Regions from separate parts of the Homo sapiens genome. Here region 2 is linked to region 1. The links come from fine-mapping of genetic effects on gene expression. Tissue or cell type: monocytes. Region 1 holds a variant in brackets; the other region holds the start of a gene. All regions are shown on one strand. Distances are from middle to middle.

What was found. PIP is the estimated chance that this variant, and not a neighbour inherited with it, causes the effect.
Region 2: TMEM9B starts here. The variant in region 1 is fine-mapped to the expression of TMEM9B in monocytes (BLUEPRINT, PIP 0.95).

The regions. Positions count from the first base shown.
Region 1 is chr11:8,900,468-8,908,573 of GRCh38, forward strand. It overlaps a transcript of DENND2B not described here. Among named protein-coding and RNA genes, the nearest start is that of AKIP1, 6.7 kb to the right of the region's middle. The variant CA/C (reference allele first, on the strand shown) is at 3,422.
Region 2 is chr11:8,959,481-8,967,586 of GRCh38, forward strand. TMEM9B (TMEM9 domain family member B) reads right to left here and starts at 4,962. Exons shown (of 5, transcript NM_020644.3): 1 at 4,729-4,962; 2 at 2,612-2,703. The coding sequence starts at 4,833. It overlaps TMEM9B-AS1 (TMEM9B antisense RNA 1), which reads left to right and starts at 5,195. Exons shown (of 5, transcript NR_073431.1): 1 at 5,195-5,668; 2 at 6,424-6,564; 3 at 7,061-7,176. RefSeq lists silencers at 4,426-4,615, 4,656-5,155.

The DNA of each region.
Region 1 (8,106 bases):
GTGTGCCTGTGGTCCCAGCTACTCAGGAGGTTGAGTTGGGGGGATCACTTGAGCCTAGGAGGTGGAGGCAACAGTGAGCCACACTTGCGCCATTGCAGTCCAGCCTGGGTGGCAGAGCAAGACCCTGTCTCAAAAAAAAAAAAAGAAAGAAGTAGATCGTGACAAATAAAGATGCATATTCTAATTCCTAGAACAATCACTAAAAAATTTTTTTAAAGGCCGGGTGCGGTGGCTCATGCCTGTAATCCCAGCACTTTGGGAGGCCGAGGTGGGTAGATCACCTGAGGTCAGGAGTTCAAGACCAGCATGGCCAATATGGTGAAACCCTCTCTCTACTAAAAATACAAAAAAATTAGCCAGGCATAGTGGTGGGCACCTGTAACCCCAGCTACTTGAGCAGCTGAGGCAGGAGAATCACTTGAATCTGGGAGGCAGAGGTTGCAGTGAGCCGAGATCATGCCATTGCACTCCAGCCTAGGCAACAAGAGTGAAACCTTGGTCTTGAACTCCTGACCTTAACTGATCTGCCCACCTTGGCCTCCCAAAGTGCTGGAATTACAGGCGTGAGCCACCACACCTGGCCCAAATTTTAATATCTTTTCAAAGAACCAACTGTTGGTTTCATTGATTTTTCTCTATTTTTCTACTTTGTATTTTATTGATTTCTACCTAATCATCATTATACCCTTCCTCCTGCTTCCTTTGGGTTTAGTTTGTTCTTCTTTTCCTAGTTTTTCTTTTTCTTTCTTTTCTTTTCTTTTCTTTTTTTTTTTTTTTTTTGAGATGGAGTCTTGCTCTATTGCCCAGGCTGGAGTGCAGTGGTGCAATCTCAGCTCACTGCAACCTCCACCTCCCAGGTTCAAGTGATTCTCCTGCCTCAGCCTCCCGAGTAGCTGGGATTACAGGTGCATGCCACCACATCTGGCTAATTTTTGTATTTTTAGTAGAGACGGGGTTTCACCATGTTGGCCAGGCTGGTCTCGAACTCCTGACCTCAACTGATCTGCCCACCTCAGCCTCCCAAAGTGCTGGGATTACAAGCATGAGCCAGCATGCCCGGCTCCTAGTTTCTTAAGGTAGAAACTTAGGTTATTGATTTGACCTATATTCTTTTCTAATATAGACATCTAAAGCTTGGCACTTCCCTCTAATCACAGTTTTAGCTGCCTCTCATACATTTTGATATATCACATCTTTGTTTCCTTTCAGTTCAAAACATTTCCTAGTTTCCCTTGTGATTTAGTCTATGACCCATGGATTATTTACCTATGCGTTGTTTAATTTGCAAATATTTGTAGATTCCCCAAATTGTCTATTGTTGATTTCTAATTTAATTCTATTGTGGGTAGAGAACATACCTGGTATGATTTCAGTCCTTTTAAATTCATTGAGACTTGTTTTATGACCTAATAATGGTCTGTTTTGGAGAATGTTCTGGGAGTATTTGACAAGAATGTGTATTGTGCTATTGTTGGATGGAGTTTCCTATAGGTGTCAAGGTGGCTGACAGTATCGTTTAGCCTTCTATATCTTTGCTGATTTTCTGTTTGTTCTATCAGTTATTAAGACTGAGGATTGGGCTGGGCACGGTGGCTCATGCCTGTAATCCCAGCATTTTGGGAGGCTGAGGTGGGCGAATCATGAGGTCAGGAGTTCAAGACCAGCCTGACCAACACGGTGAAACCCTGTCTCTATTAAAAATACAAAAAGTAGCCGGGTGTGGTGGCACGCGCCTGTAATCCCAGCTACTCAGGAGGCTGAGGTAGGAGAATCACTTGAACCCAGGAGGCAGAGGCTGCAGTGAGCTGAGATCACACCACTGCACTCCAGTGTAGGTGACAGAGTGAGACTCCATCTCAAAAAAAAAAAAAAAAGAGTGAGGTGTTGAAGTCCCCAACTACCACTGTTGAATTGTCTATTTCTTGCTTGAATTTTGTCAGTTTTTGCTTTGGTATTTTGAGGCTGTGTTGTTAGGGTCATGTACATTTGCAAGTGCTATATCTTCCAGATGTAATGATTTGTCATTTTTGTGATTCTGATATGCCCCACTTTGTCTAGTGATATTTCTTGTCTTCAAGTCTATTTTGTCTGATGTTAATACATTTACTTCAGCAATCTTTTTTTGGCAAGGGGAGTCGCTTAAAGCAACACAAGTTTATTATCTTAAGGTTCTGGAAGTCAGATGTCTGAAATGGTTTTCACTGGACTACAATCAAGGTATCTGCAGGATTCTGTTTCTTTACTCCAGCAATATTATGCTTATAGTTTACATGGTATATCTTTTTCTTTAACTTTCAACTTATTTGTGTGTTTGACTATAAGTTGTGTTTCTTGTAGACAGACAGTTGGATCTAAGCCAGTCTGACAATCTCTGCTTATAGAATGGGCTGTTGAGACCATTCACATTTAACATTATTATCGAGATGGCTGAATTTACATTTGATCACAGTGGTGCAATCTCGGCTCACTGCAACCTCCACCTCCCAGGTTCAAGCAATTCTCCTGCCTCAGCCTCCTGAGTAGCTGAGACTACAGGCATGCGCCACCACACCCAGCTAATTTTTGTATTTTTAGTAGAGATGGGGCTTCACCATGTTGGACAGGATGGTCTCGATCTCTTGACCTCATGATCCACCCACCTTGGCTTCCCAAAGTGCTGGGATTACAGGCATGAGCCACCACACCTGGCCATCTGTATTTTTTAAAGTTTTATTTATTTATTTATTTTTTGAGACAGAGTTTCACTCCAGCATAGGCCAACATGGTGAAACCCTGTCTCTACTAAATATACAAAAATTAGTCGGGTGTGGTGGCATGCACCTGTAATCCCTGTTACTTGGGTGGATTAGGCAGAAGAATCAATCACTTGAACCTGGGAGGCGGAGATTGTAGTGAGCTGAGATTGCACTACTGCATTCCAGCCTGGGTGACAGAGTGAGACTGTCTCAAAAGAAAAAAAAAGGATATTACAAGTTGACAAAACTTTAACTAGACTGACCAAGATGTTAAAAAAAAAAAAAAAAAAGCAAGAGAGAGAAGGCACAGATTACCATAATCAGATCTTAAAGAAATAAAAAAGATTGTGAGGGAATATTACCAATAGCTTTTTGTCAACAAATTAGACAACTTAAGTGACTGGGCAAATTCTTAGACACCAAGTATTGAAACTGACTCAAGATGGAATAGAAGATCACTTGAGTTCAGGAGTTCAAGACCAGCCTGGGCAACATGGCAAAACCACATCTCTACTACAAAAAGTACCAAAAAAATTAGGTGGGCCTAGTGGTGATGCATGCCTGTAGTCCCAGCTACTCGAGTGGCTAAGGTGGGAGAATCACCTGAGCCCAGGGAGTTGAGGCTGTAGTGAGCTGTGATTATGCCACGGCACTCCAGCCTTGGCAACAGGAGTGAGACCTTGTCT[CA/C]AAAAAAAAAAAAAAAAAAAAAGAAGGAATAGAAAATATAAGTAGACCTAAAACAAGGAAAAAAGTTGAATTAGTAATTAAAAATCTTCCCACAAAGTAAAGCCCAGGCCCAGATGGTTTTAATCAAATGCTTAAGAATAATACCAATTCTACACACTCTTCCAAGAAATAGAACATTCCTAAATCATTCTATAAGGCCAATATTATCCTAATACCAAAAGACACAAAGACCAGAAACAAGAAAACTAGAGATCAATATCCCTCATGAATATACACAGAAAAATCCTCAGTAAAATACTAGCAAACCAAATTCAACAACGAAAGATTGGCTTAATATCCAAAAATCAATTCATTCAACACATGTTAATAGAATAAAAAATAAAAACCACATGATCACATCAATGGACATACAAAAAACGTCTGAAAAACTTCAAAAATCATTCATGATAAAAACTTTCACTAAACCAGGAATAGAAGGAAACTTCTTCTCAACCTGAAGAAGCTAATTAAAAATAATTTTTAAAGATAGATGAGAACTTCCTTAACCTAATAAAGAGTATCTACAAAAAAACAAATATCATACTTAATGGTAAAAGGCTGAATGTTCTGCCTCTAAAATTGGGAACAAGGCAAAGATGTTCCCCTTGCCACTTCTATTCAACATTGTACTACAGGTTCAAGCCAGTGCGATTAGGCAAGAAAAAGAAGTCCTGATTGAAAAGAAAAAAGTTAGCCTTTCTTTATTCACAGAAGATCTGATCCAGTATACAGAAAATCCTAAAGAATCCACAAAAAAATTCTTAGAACAAGTAAATGAGTTTAACAAGGTTACAGGATACAATATCAATATGAAAAAGTCAACTATATTTCTATACACTAGTAATAATTTCATCTGAAAATGAAATTGAGAAAACAATTTCATTCACAACAGCATAAAAATACTTAATAAATTTGTTAAAAGAAGTGCAATATGTACACTAATCACTACACAATATTAGTAAAAAAAATAAAGAAAACTGAAATAAATGGACAGACATTCCATGTTCATAAATTCAAAAACCCAATATTGTTAAGATTGCAATTCTTCCTCAATTAATCTGTGAATTCAATATAATCTCTATCAAAACATCAACAGTTGTTACACAGAAGTTGACAAACTGAATTTAAATTTTATGGAAATAATGACTGTACTAGAATATAAAAATAATTTTGAAAATGAAGAACATAGTTGATATACTTCCCAATTTCCAAACTTACTACAAAACTACAATAATCAATACAGTATAATATGGCATAAGGACAGACATATAGATCAATAGAACATAATTTAAAGTCTAAAAGCTAACTCTTACATTTATGGTGAATTGATTTTTGACAAAGTTGCCAAGGGAATTTAATGAGAAAAGGATAGTCTTTTATACAAATGATACTGAGAAAATTGAACATCTGCATGAAAAGAAATGAATCTAGACCCTTACCTCATAATGCACATAAAAATTAATGCAAAATGGCATAGAGTTAAATGTAAAAACTAAAATATACAACTATTAGGAGGAAACATAGAAAAAATCTTCAAAAAAAATTTTCATGACCTTAGGTTAGGCAAAGATTTCTTAGATATAACACCAAAAGCACAATTTATAAAGGAAAAAAATTAATAAGTTGGAGTTCATCAAAACTTTAAATGTTAGTACTTCAAATTACACCACTAAGAAAATGAAATACATGACACAGCCTGGGAGAAAATACTTATGAATCATACATCTGGTGTGGGTGCGGCGGCTCAAGTCTGTATTCCCAAGAGAAATGAAAACATGTGTCCACACAAAGTCTTACTATGCATTATCAGTCAAAATAGCCCCAAACCAGAAACATTTCAGATGACCATCAACCAGTAAATGGATAAACAAAATGTAATATATTCATATAACGGGATAGTATTCAGTCATAAAAAAGAATGAAGTATTGATACATGCTACGACATGTGTGAGCCTCAAAAACATTATGCTAATTAAAAGAAGCCAGGCAAAAAAAGGTCACATATTATCAGATTCCATCTATATGAATTGTCCAGAAAAGGCGAATTCATAAGACAGCAAGCAGAAGACTGGTCACCTAGGACCAGAGGCAGGAGCTGAGAACTGACTGCATATGGTATACACTAGGGATTTTTCTCAGGTAATGACAGTGTTCCAAAACTGCACTTTGGTGATGTTGACAACTCTGTAAATTTACAAAAAATACTGAAATATACACTTAAGACAGGTAAATTTTATCATATGTACATTATACCTCAATAAAGAAGTCTTTTTTTTCTTTTTTTTTTTTTTTTTTGAGATGGAGTCTCGCTCTGTCACCCAGGCTGGGGTGCAGTGGCGCGACCTTGGCTCACTGCAAGCTCTGCCTCTCAGGTTCACGCCGTTCTCCTGCCTCAGCCTCCCCTGGGACTACAGGCTCCTGCCACCACGCCCAGCTAATTTTTTGTATTTTTAATAGAGATGGGGTTTCACCGTGTTAGCCAGGATGGTCTCAATCTCCTGGCCTCGTGATCTGCCCATCTCAGCCTCCCAAAGTGCTGGGATTACAGGTGTGAGCCACCGCGCCCAGCCAAGAAGTCTTCAAAAAAAAAAAAAAAAAAACTCTACATAAATTTCAACTGTTTATATTAAATATCTTCCAAATACTATTCCTTTGATCTCTGACTTTTAAAAATGACAAGATTTCAATCATTCCTGCTCTGCAACCAATTTTTTTAACTCCCAGTCAATTTTAAACAGATTGTGAAAGTTAATTCTCAGAAGTTTGATTCATTTTCTTTAATCTACATCATCAAGATGACAATTTTGATAATGAGTTTCTTTCATTCCCCCAATAACCCAGTGAGATGATGTAATCAGGCAAAATGAATGATCTAATGACTCAGTCTGTAATACTACCTTACAAAGCTGTGATGATTCCAAAGCTCTTAAGTCTGCTGGAGAAATAACAATACCATTTGTCAAATAAAATGATTTATACAGTTTCTGGTATGTACAGTATAAATCACTGTCTAACTCTGGCACAGTACCCACTTTTGCATCCTGGGTTTTTAACCCTTTTTGGCCCCCTTCACATAAAGAAAAGGAATTTACATTGCTCTTCACTGGACTTGTTTTTTCTCCTCAAAAAGTCCCAAATACAGCACCAGTCTCTTTCCCCATTTCACAATTAAAGACCTCTTCCAACGCATCTCCTCCAAAACATAGAACCCTGACAACTAACTTTCATCTGTTCTCATTAGTGAATTTACCCTTGTGAAGATAGAAGTCATTAAAAACTCATATCAATAGTTTATTTTTCTGTCAATACTGACAGTCTATTTCCCTGTTGACCAGGCACATTCCTAATTAGTTGCCCTCTCTCCATTTACAATTCCATTTTCAGTTCTCACCAGTGGCTTTCATTTGGCGTGGGCTATATTTGATCCACAAGGGGCCTGATGGTAGGTCATGTTCTATCATTATTCCCAGCCAATCTTAAAAAAGATAAAAAGGAATCTCTCAAGTCTCTCAATCTGTGGTTTACAGGATGAATCTTTAAAATTATAAATATGCACATATAAAAATATATTTACAAATATATTTACAAATAGAAAAATAAAAACAAATGCAAAGATTTAATTTAGAGTCTTTTGGTTTCAGTTTCATTTCAAGCATCTTCTTTCCCATAAATTTCTAAATGTTAAATTCTGAGAAAATGTAGTTACAATTGAATATTCATTACATTCATTAAAGTTCATGTAGGTAGGTGTTTTTTTAATAGAAAAGCCAACTCTTTTTTTTCTTAAGATAGGTTCTTACTCTGTTGCCCCGGCTGGAGGGCAGTGGCACGATCATAGCTCACTGCAGCCTCAACATCCTGGACTCAAGCAATCCTCCCATCTCAACCTCCCGAGTAGCTAGGACTACAGGTATGAGCCACCATGCCAGGCTAGTTTTTTAATTTTTTAAAAAATAGAGACAGGGGTCTCACTATGTTGCCCAGGCTGCTGTCAAACTCCTGGCCTCAAGTAATCCTTCCACCTCAACCTCCTGAACTTCTGGGATTACAGGTGTGAGCCACCACAAAGCCACCTCTTTATGTGGGCTAACAGAAGTCTATTTAACTTAAAAATTAAATCAGAGTAATTTCAACAAATGGCTACTGAACACCCGCTACTTAACAGGTCCTGGAATGTTTAGGGACAAATAAGGAACAGTTTCTGCCTTCAAGGAATTGAAAGGCTATTGGGAGAGAAGAAACCATAACTACACATAATTTAAATTAGATTGGAAAAGTACACACAAAAAATTTTTTTAAGGCTATGGCAACAGAGGTGGCAACTGGGAACCACTGGGAAAAGTTTCAAAGAGCTGACCTGACAAAAAGAAAGTAGTGCCTCAACTGGAATGACTAAAATAGAATGGGGAAGAGAGACAAATGAGATGAGGTGTGGCTATGATACTGGGTAAGTGAGAGCATATTTTGGGAGACCAGGCTGAAGCTTAAGATAATAATACTAGCTAATATTTATTGAGCACCTACTATGTACCAAGTACTATAAATGCACTTTATAGATATTAACTTACTTGATATTCACAATAACCCTATGAGGAATGTGCTAAAACCTTGAAATCCATAAAAAATAAAGAGGACCAAATTCTGT
Region 2 (8,106 bases), 59 kb after region 1:
CGGGAAAATGAAACTGATCTATTTAGTTTCCTACTTCAGCTTCAGAAGCTTTGGCAACAATACCTAAGAATGACTTGGGAATTTTAAGTGCTAAGTAAGTATTGAGTATTTCTTTTGAAGGATATATTTTAATAACAAAAAGATACTTGAGTGCTGTGCAAAAGTTGTGCCCAGCTGGAGAGAAAGCAGGAAGGTTGATTTTGGCTGACCAGTCATTACAAACAGAGCTAGACCTAGTCAGAGGTTAACCACTTAAGGAACTAGGCAACACCTCCCCCTAGTGCCAAAAGTAACACATCATTAGCTTTAAATCACCCCAAACACAAACTAGAGCACTCCAACTACTCTTAAGTTTTAAGTCAGCCAGCATAAGTCAATGAAGACTTAAAGATAAAAACTGGACAAAATGAAAGGCCCAGAAAACAAAAGGTAAAACTATATCTAGGCCCTCACAGATACTGGAGGCCTCGTAAAGCCATAATTCTGGTGAATCATAACTTGCCTGCCCCGTAAAGTCAGTTAAAATTTTTCAGTGCCAGCTGGGAACTTATCCCTAGAAAAATGCTAAGCTGCAGAAAAGAAACAAGGGAGAGTGGGAGAGAGGGAAGAAAAACCCCAAGCAAGCCTTATTCTCAACTGTTTATTTTCTTTGTTTCTGTTTTTTTTTTTTTTTTTTTTTTGAGACAGAGTCATGCTCTGTCACCCAGGTTAGAGGGCAGTGGCACAATCTCAGCTCACTGCAACCTCTACCTCTGCGGCTCAAGCGATTCTCTACCTTAGCCTTCCGAGTAGCTGGAATTACAGGCGTGTGCCACCATGCCCAGCTAATTTTTATATTTTTAGTAGAGTCGGGGTTTCACCATGTTGGCCAGGCTGTTCTTGAACTCCTGGCCTCAAGTGATCCACCTGCCTTGGCCTCCCAAAGTGCTGGGATTACAGGTGTGAGCCACCATGTCCTGCCTCAACTGTTTTCAAAGCCAAAGCTATTTTTACTAATAACCAGGGGTTAATGACATATGGTCCTGTCTGAGTCTGAAATAATGAAAAGTTAGTGAAAAGATTAGTGCTAACCACTTGAATAGTGAGTTCATTTGCTACTCAAAAGACAGGCATTGCATTTCATTACTGATAACAGAATAAACTGTAAGCACTGAATAAATTTGGAAAATTTATAGAAGTAACATAAAGATTTATTTGAACATTCTTTTTTTTTTTTTTTGAGCTAGGGTCTCGCTCTGTCACCCAGGCTGGAGTGCAGTGGCGCGATCTCGGCTCACTGCAAGCTCTGCCTCCCGGGTTCAAGCGATTCTCCTGCCTCGGCCTCCCGAGTGGCTGGGATTACAGGCACCCGCCACCAAGCCCGGCTAATTTTTTTTGTATTTTTAGTAGAGACAGGGTTTCACTCTGTTGGCCAGGCTGGTCTCGAACTCCTGACCTCAGGTGATCCGCCTGCCTCAGCCTCCCAGAGTGCTGGGATTACAGGCGTGAGCCACCGTGCCCGGCCTGAACATTCTTGTATCATATAAAGTAACTTCCTGATATAAAACCTTTAAGAATATGGCCAAATCGCTTGGTTAATATGACACCACTTACAGTGGAACATAGAGGTTCACAAGAAGTTCTCAAGAACACACTTAACAAATATGAGACTGAACCTAAATGCGTATCAGGGAAGAACAGACAGTGGCATCAGAGAAACTAAACATACTCAAAGGCTGCCTTTTCTTTTTTAAAGTCAGGTTGGAATACTGTTAACTGAATGAATTTAATCTTGCTTTCTAACTCTTTGATGGCTATTTAGCTATGAAATCAGATACACGTGAAAGCTCCTACCATTTGGAACTATTTTTCCTAAATTCCTATCCCATCCATCTTCCACCGTGGTTACAAACCATAAAACATCACAATTCTATGGGAAGGAACACATTCATCCTGCTGTAATACAACTGCATCCCAACTGCTTCATGGCACACGTAGAAAAAGCTATTTGTCAGGTCTGCTGGGATAAGCAGAGAAGGCTGCTGGTGGCTAGTCAGTCAGGATCCCCCAGTCATCACAGGCCTGCCTGACTGCCCAAGGACTGAACAGGTCAATATCTTGGCACAACTGTAACTTCTTCATTTACACCAAATGGGAAACTCTGACTACATAGCTCATTTCCACTTCTTCTTGAGCCTTCTGACACTTTTAAACATAGCTTCCCATACTTGGCAATACATCATCAAAACCTACAAGTTGTAAAAATTATAACCCAGACAAACGAGGCTTGCTAACCTTCCACTGAAAAGCAAGAGGGAGAAAGGTCCCTCACCAAAACTTGAGGGAGTACAGCAAGATAGCTATGGGTAGTTTAGGTGCCACAAACCCAGTCATATGCTCCCATGAAACTCTGCCTACATGGGTCTTAGTGTTTTGGCTGTATACCTTTAGGCCTGCAGGCATCATGCACGTAGGGCCTCACTCTCACTTTTTCAAATGGAAGTAGAATTTCACATTTTTGCTTCAAATGAAATACTTAAAAAGAAAACTATGCATTTGATGAACATTCTGGGATAACACTGACAACCACAGAAACAAATGTGACAGGTAATTCAGTAATCCAGATACTTACCAATCTTTCTGAGATATGTTCTTATTATAAATATGCCCAGAATTTTCTTTATAGGGAGGGCAGATACATTTACATCTGACATCCTCGAAATTCTGTAACCAAAATGGAAACAGTATAGTGCGTTGACAGTTTATCATCAATATTTTTAAAAACTGTACCATATACATTTTGCCAAGCATCCTCTTTAGAATACCAAGTATTCTAAAATCATTCATTTAAAACTTTAACAGACACAGTTTTTAAAAGCCACAGTCCTTTATGGTAATGCCAATGAATCATTATATATTACATGTAGTTATTTTGAAATAATACCTAATACATGATCTAAGACTTATTAACCATATTTATGGGTCACATGACAATCAAATTATGTTAATGTTATTACCATCTATCTGCCACTAGAAAGACACATGGTAAGCAGATAGTTGTGCCTGTAAATAAGAATATTCATTACTAAAGGATGGGAAAGAAACTAAAAATTATTCACAAAAAAGGTCACAATTCTACCTATCATCCTTTCACCCTCTGGTAGAAGGCACTGACATTGATAAAACGGGTTGGGCCAGAGTCCCGTAGAAGGGATGAAATGTTAGAGGCACCCACCTACAACTAGAAAGGAAGTACACACAGGAAGTAGCCTGACTCTGAGATCAGTTTAGTATACTCTTCCCAGGAAACTTTGCTTCTAATTCCTGGTTGACAGACAGAACAACTACCAACAAAACAAGTTTCAAGAGGTGGAGGAACAGGTGACTAAGTATCTGGATAGAGAAAAGAAGAGATGCTTCCTCAGCAAAGGGGAATCTGTTTGAGAAGGAAGTGGCTTATCATTCCCCAGAGGACCTTGCCCACTCCTCCTATATACAGTGATATGTCTGGCAGAGCTATTGACAATTCACAAACGTATTCAGCAACCACTTAGTGAGCATTTGCTCTGTGTTAGATCTTGTGCTCAATAAGGTGGATTCAGATAAGCATAAGACATGGTTTCTGCCCATAACCAGGACACACCCTAGTAAAGGAGACTGAAAAATAAATACATGATCACAATACATAAAGTTATGAGGCAAGATATGCAGAGGGTGCCAGCAATGTTTTCAAAGTCAGGAGACGTGCTGCTGTCCCTGTTTCTGGTAGGAGGTAGAGATGGTTTCAAAAAGAATCTCTGAATCAAAAACATTTGCCTGCCTGTAACCTTTCCCCACTCCTACATTTAAAGATATTATAAATTAAAGCTCTTATTTTTAAAAACGCAATGTCATTCTGTTTTCCCATCATACTAATGTGAATCCCTTCTGTTCTCCCCCAATGATGAGCTAGCTCATCAAAGAGGAAGCACAGGTATGCATGGAGCTAGGGCAGGTCTGGAGAGCTGGGGCACCAGAGAACAGTATGAGGGAACTAGAAGGTCAAGAAATCGAACCAGGGAGGCCACAACCTCACCTCTCTTGCAGTTTGGTTCTTCCCTTACCCACTAAATTATCAGGAAGAGAGAAAGCAAGAAAGGCACCAAGGGACTCGTGGAGGGAGTTAGGTGAGAATATGAAGCAGGTGAGAGATGCTCCGTAGGCCCTATTGGGAGGGAAGTAGGCCAGGAGGGGCAAGTTCCCACCACAGGAAGGGAAGTGTTCAGGGGTGAGCTGAGCTGAGTCGGCCCTTGACAGGGAAGGCTCTGTCAGATGGGGGCTTCCTATCATTCTGGCTTGGGGCATGCGGGGCCTGTGAGGCTGGCGGAGGGCGCAGGTGGGCTGTCAAGAGCTTAGGGTGGAAAGTTAAAGGCTCTCGGAGGTGAAAAGGTTGTCAAGTGTAAGATGCGTGCAGCCGGGGCTGGGAAGGGAAATGTTAAGGCGGTGGGGGGCTGCTGTCCGGACTGTGGGCACTGTCGGGGCTGGGGACGACCGTGGGGCGCTGCCTGCCAGGCTGTCGGGGCTGAGGGCGAGAGTGCCGCCGGGCAGTCGGGAGGGGCGGGGCTGGTGGCGGCGGGGGTCTGCCGGAGCTGTGAGGCCAGGCGTATGGCTGTCAGGAATGGGCCAAGGAGCAGGTTGGCAGACCCAGTTTCCGCAAGGCCGGTGGTAGGGGAGGAGCTTCCGTCAGGAGCGAGGCTGGGCGGGACTCACCTTGGCGGCGTCTGACAGCTGCGCCAGCAGCAGCACGGAAAGCGCCAGGCACGACAGGCTGAGCAAGGAGCCAAGCCGAAGAAGGCCTCCCCACAGGGTCGCCATCGCTGGGGGCCCAGCGGTCCCACAGCCCGGAGCCCCCGCGACCGGCTCCCGGCTCGGGCTCAGGCTCAGGCTCAGGCTCAGGCACAGGCTTGGGACCCGGCTGGGGATCCTCCGCCCGCACTTCCGTCTGGACGCGAAGGCGTCACCGGGCGCGCCGGGTCAGATGCAAAAAGCATCCGCCCCGGAACCGGTTACCAGTGCGAAGGGCCGGGAGGCTGGGCAGTCCTGGTGCCCGCCTTGGCCTAGCCCCGGCCCCGGGACGGAAGGGGGCCTCTGGGGTGGCAGCCTGGGCCCAGTAGAGCTTTGCATCTCTTGGATATCTTTCCCGGGCGCAGAAGCTGCGGGGCTTAGGGAGTCGCCATTGCGCTGGAAAGTCCTCCCGCCCACGGAGACCCCAGCAAACTCCGAGTGTCACACAGTCGCCTCTGGCGACCCGTGCGGGCCGGAGCCGTTCGCGCACAGGCAGGGCGGGTGCTGAGCGTGGAAACGGGGCTGGAATTGGCCGAGCCATGCCTTTCCGGGATGCCCACCGCCAGTCAAAGGGTTGGGGGTGGTCTCTGCACCTTAAGTACTAACCTGCCGCCCACGCGCCTCCTGACCACAGCACCCCGTCGGCTTTCTAATTCTGTGAGCTGCCCTCGTGGGCGTGGCCTCCCTGTGGAGCTCCCCATGTGCCTCCCCTTGGTCCAGCCTGCAGCTAGGAAGTGGGTCACAGCGACGGGGCTGGGCTGGGCCAGGCCAGGCTCCGGGAGATGTGGAATTGGCGAAACAACTGCCCCAGTAGTATCCTCCGCCTAGGACTCCAAGAGGTGGCGAATTGGGGCACTACGCCCGGGTAAGGCAGTGCCTGTTCAGGGCTGCCGACCTGTCTCCCCAGGGCTGTCATTCTCAGCAAGTACTTTAGGAGTGCCTTAGATCGGCACATTCTCCCATTGAAATATTTTTGTTAGTGGAGACAAGGGAGGTAATGGCAAGGACACGGATCATCACAGCCCCTAGGGATTTGTTGAATGACCTTTGGCAAATCACTTCCCTTCTCTGGGCCTGTAGTTCTTGGCTGAATATGAGGGAATGGATTTCAAATTATGCTCCATGTAATACCCGTGTTTTTACCTCTGTAAACAGATTTTTTTGTTTTTTTTGAGACGGAGTCTCGTTCTGTCCCCCGGGCTGGAGTGCAGTGGCGCGATCTCGGCTCACTGCAACCTCCGCCTCCCGGGTTGACGCCATTCTCCTGCCTCAGCCTCCCTAGTAGGTGGGACTACAGGCGCCCGCCACCACGCCGCCCGGCTAATTTTTTTTTTCTTTTTCTTTTTCTTTTTTTTTTTTTGTATTTTTAGTACAGACAGGGTCTCACTGTGTTAGCCAGGATGGTCTCGATCTCCTGACCTTGTGATCCGCCCGCCTCGGCCTCCCAAATTGCTGGGATTATAGGCGTGAGCCACCGCGCCCGGCCCCAACAGATTTTTAAAGATGGTCTTTTCCCAATTTGTGGAAATGTTTTAACAGAATGCTCTCAATATTTTTCGCCCATGTGATTCTTAGATTCATGTGAATCTAACACAACGTATCTGATACTGTTCCCAACAGGAACCAGGGTGGCAGGGCTAGATGTCCTCTCACCAGACTGCCCAGTGAAGGTGCTGTCACTTTGATGAATTATCAAGGCTTTGTAGTGGGTCTTCTACTGGACAAAGGACAAACTGGAGACTCCCTGGATCAAATGTGTTGGTGAGGCACTGAATCTGATTGCTGAAAGGTGATTCAGCTGCAAGTTAGGCATCAGTTTAGGGTTTTCTAGGCTTGGCATCTAAAGGGAGTGCCTGCTGTAGCTGAAACCTCATAGGCCTTCTCTTCCTTCCGAATTGTTTTCAAGGCCTTGGGGGTACAGAGACTTAGAGAAAATACATAGTTGTGCCTCAGACTGATGGGCCTCATCTGTTTAATGGAGAAACACCAAGCACACTCAGTCTGGGCGGAATTTTAGAGCTCCATAGTATAACCACTATCTAGCTACATGTGGCAATTGAGCATTTGAAATGTGGCTAGACTGAATTGAAATGTGCTGTATAAAATATACACTTAATTTCAAAGACAATATTTTTAAAATGTAAAATATTTCAGTAATTTAAAAATATGGTTTAAATATTTTAGATATGTTGGGTTAAATAAAATATATTAGTAAAATATTTCACTTGTTTTTTGACCTCTTAAATGTGGCTGCTAGAAAATGTTATAGTGCTGTCAGGAAGTGCTGTTCTGGAATACAGAATGTGGCTGCCGTGAGTGGAGTGTGACTATGAGATAGTCGCCTGACTGGAGACAATGAAGCCTCAGGCCAAGGTAAGAGGGCTGACAAGGAAGAACTGGCACAACTAGAGCCGAATGTTTGGGGGAGGTATATGTCTGCCAAAAAATGAATATAATTTCAGGTGACTCAATAGAAGTGGAGGGATCAGTTTCTCTTGTTCTGCCCTGCTCTTATCTAGGTAACTCTTACTTTTCCTTTAGGTCAGGGTTCTTCTAAGCCAGAAAACCTTCACTGACTTAAGTGCACTCCTTTCTATGTTTGCATAGATCTCTTTCTTAACTTTACCCCATTATAGTAAAATTATGTTTTCACATTTGCCTTTATACCCAAACCTCCACCAAAATATTGTGAGCTCTCTGAGGGTAAGGACTTTGTCTTATTATTGTTATACCTGGAGACAGATTAAAACAATATGATGTTTGTGGGGACCAGGGAAAAGGGGAATGGGAGAGGCTCCTCTGGTTAGTCTAAAAGAAAAGTATCAGGCACCTACTTGAATCCTCATTTGATTTCTTTCTGACCATGAGAGGGGATGCTGAGATGCCCAAAGATGTGCAAATGGCGGGATCCGGCGCACCATAGTAGGCAGGGGAGTGAAGATTTCTCACCTCGGGTCTTCCTAGACCTTCAGGTCACACGGGAATTGTTCTGTTTATAGACGGCGCTGGCCTTAGTACTCACTCTCCCTCTATTTTCCTTGCTTCCTTATAACTAGGTTTCCCTACTCACTTCCTCAAAAAGAGTGATGTAGGTCCACGTGTACCCTCCCAACTGGCCTGGGTCCTCTCCCTTCTTTGTAAGGCCTGAAAAATTCCCTGGTGGGGGATGGTTAGAAAAGGAAGAGGAACCTTCTTTGTAAGTGTGCAAGTCAGAAGGGGAGGGAGAAAAGTGACAATTTATATATCTGGGACAAATATATCTTGGACCCAGGTTTTGCCACCTGTCTGCATCCCCCCATGCCC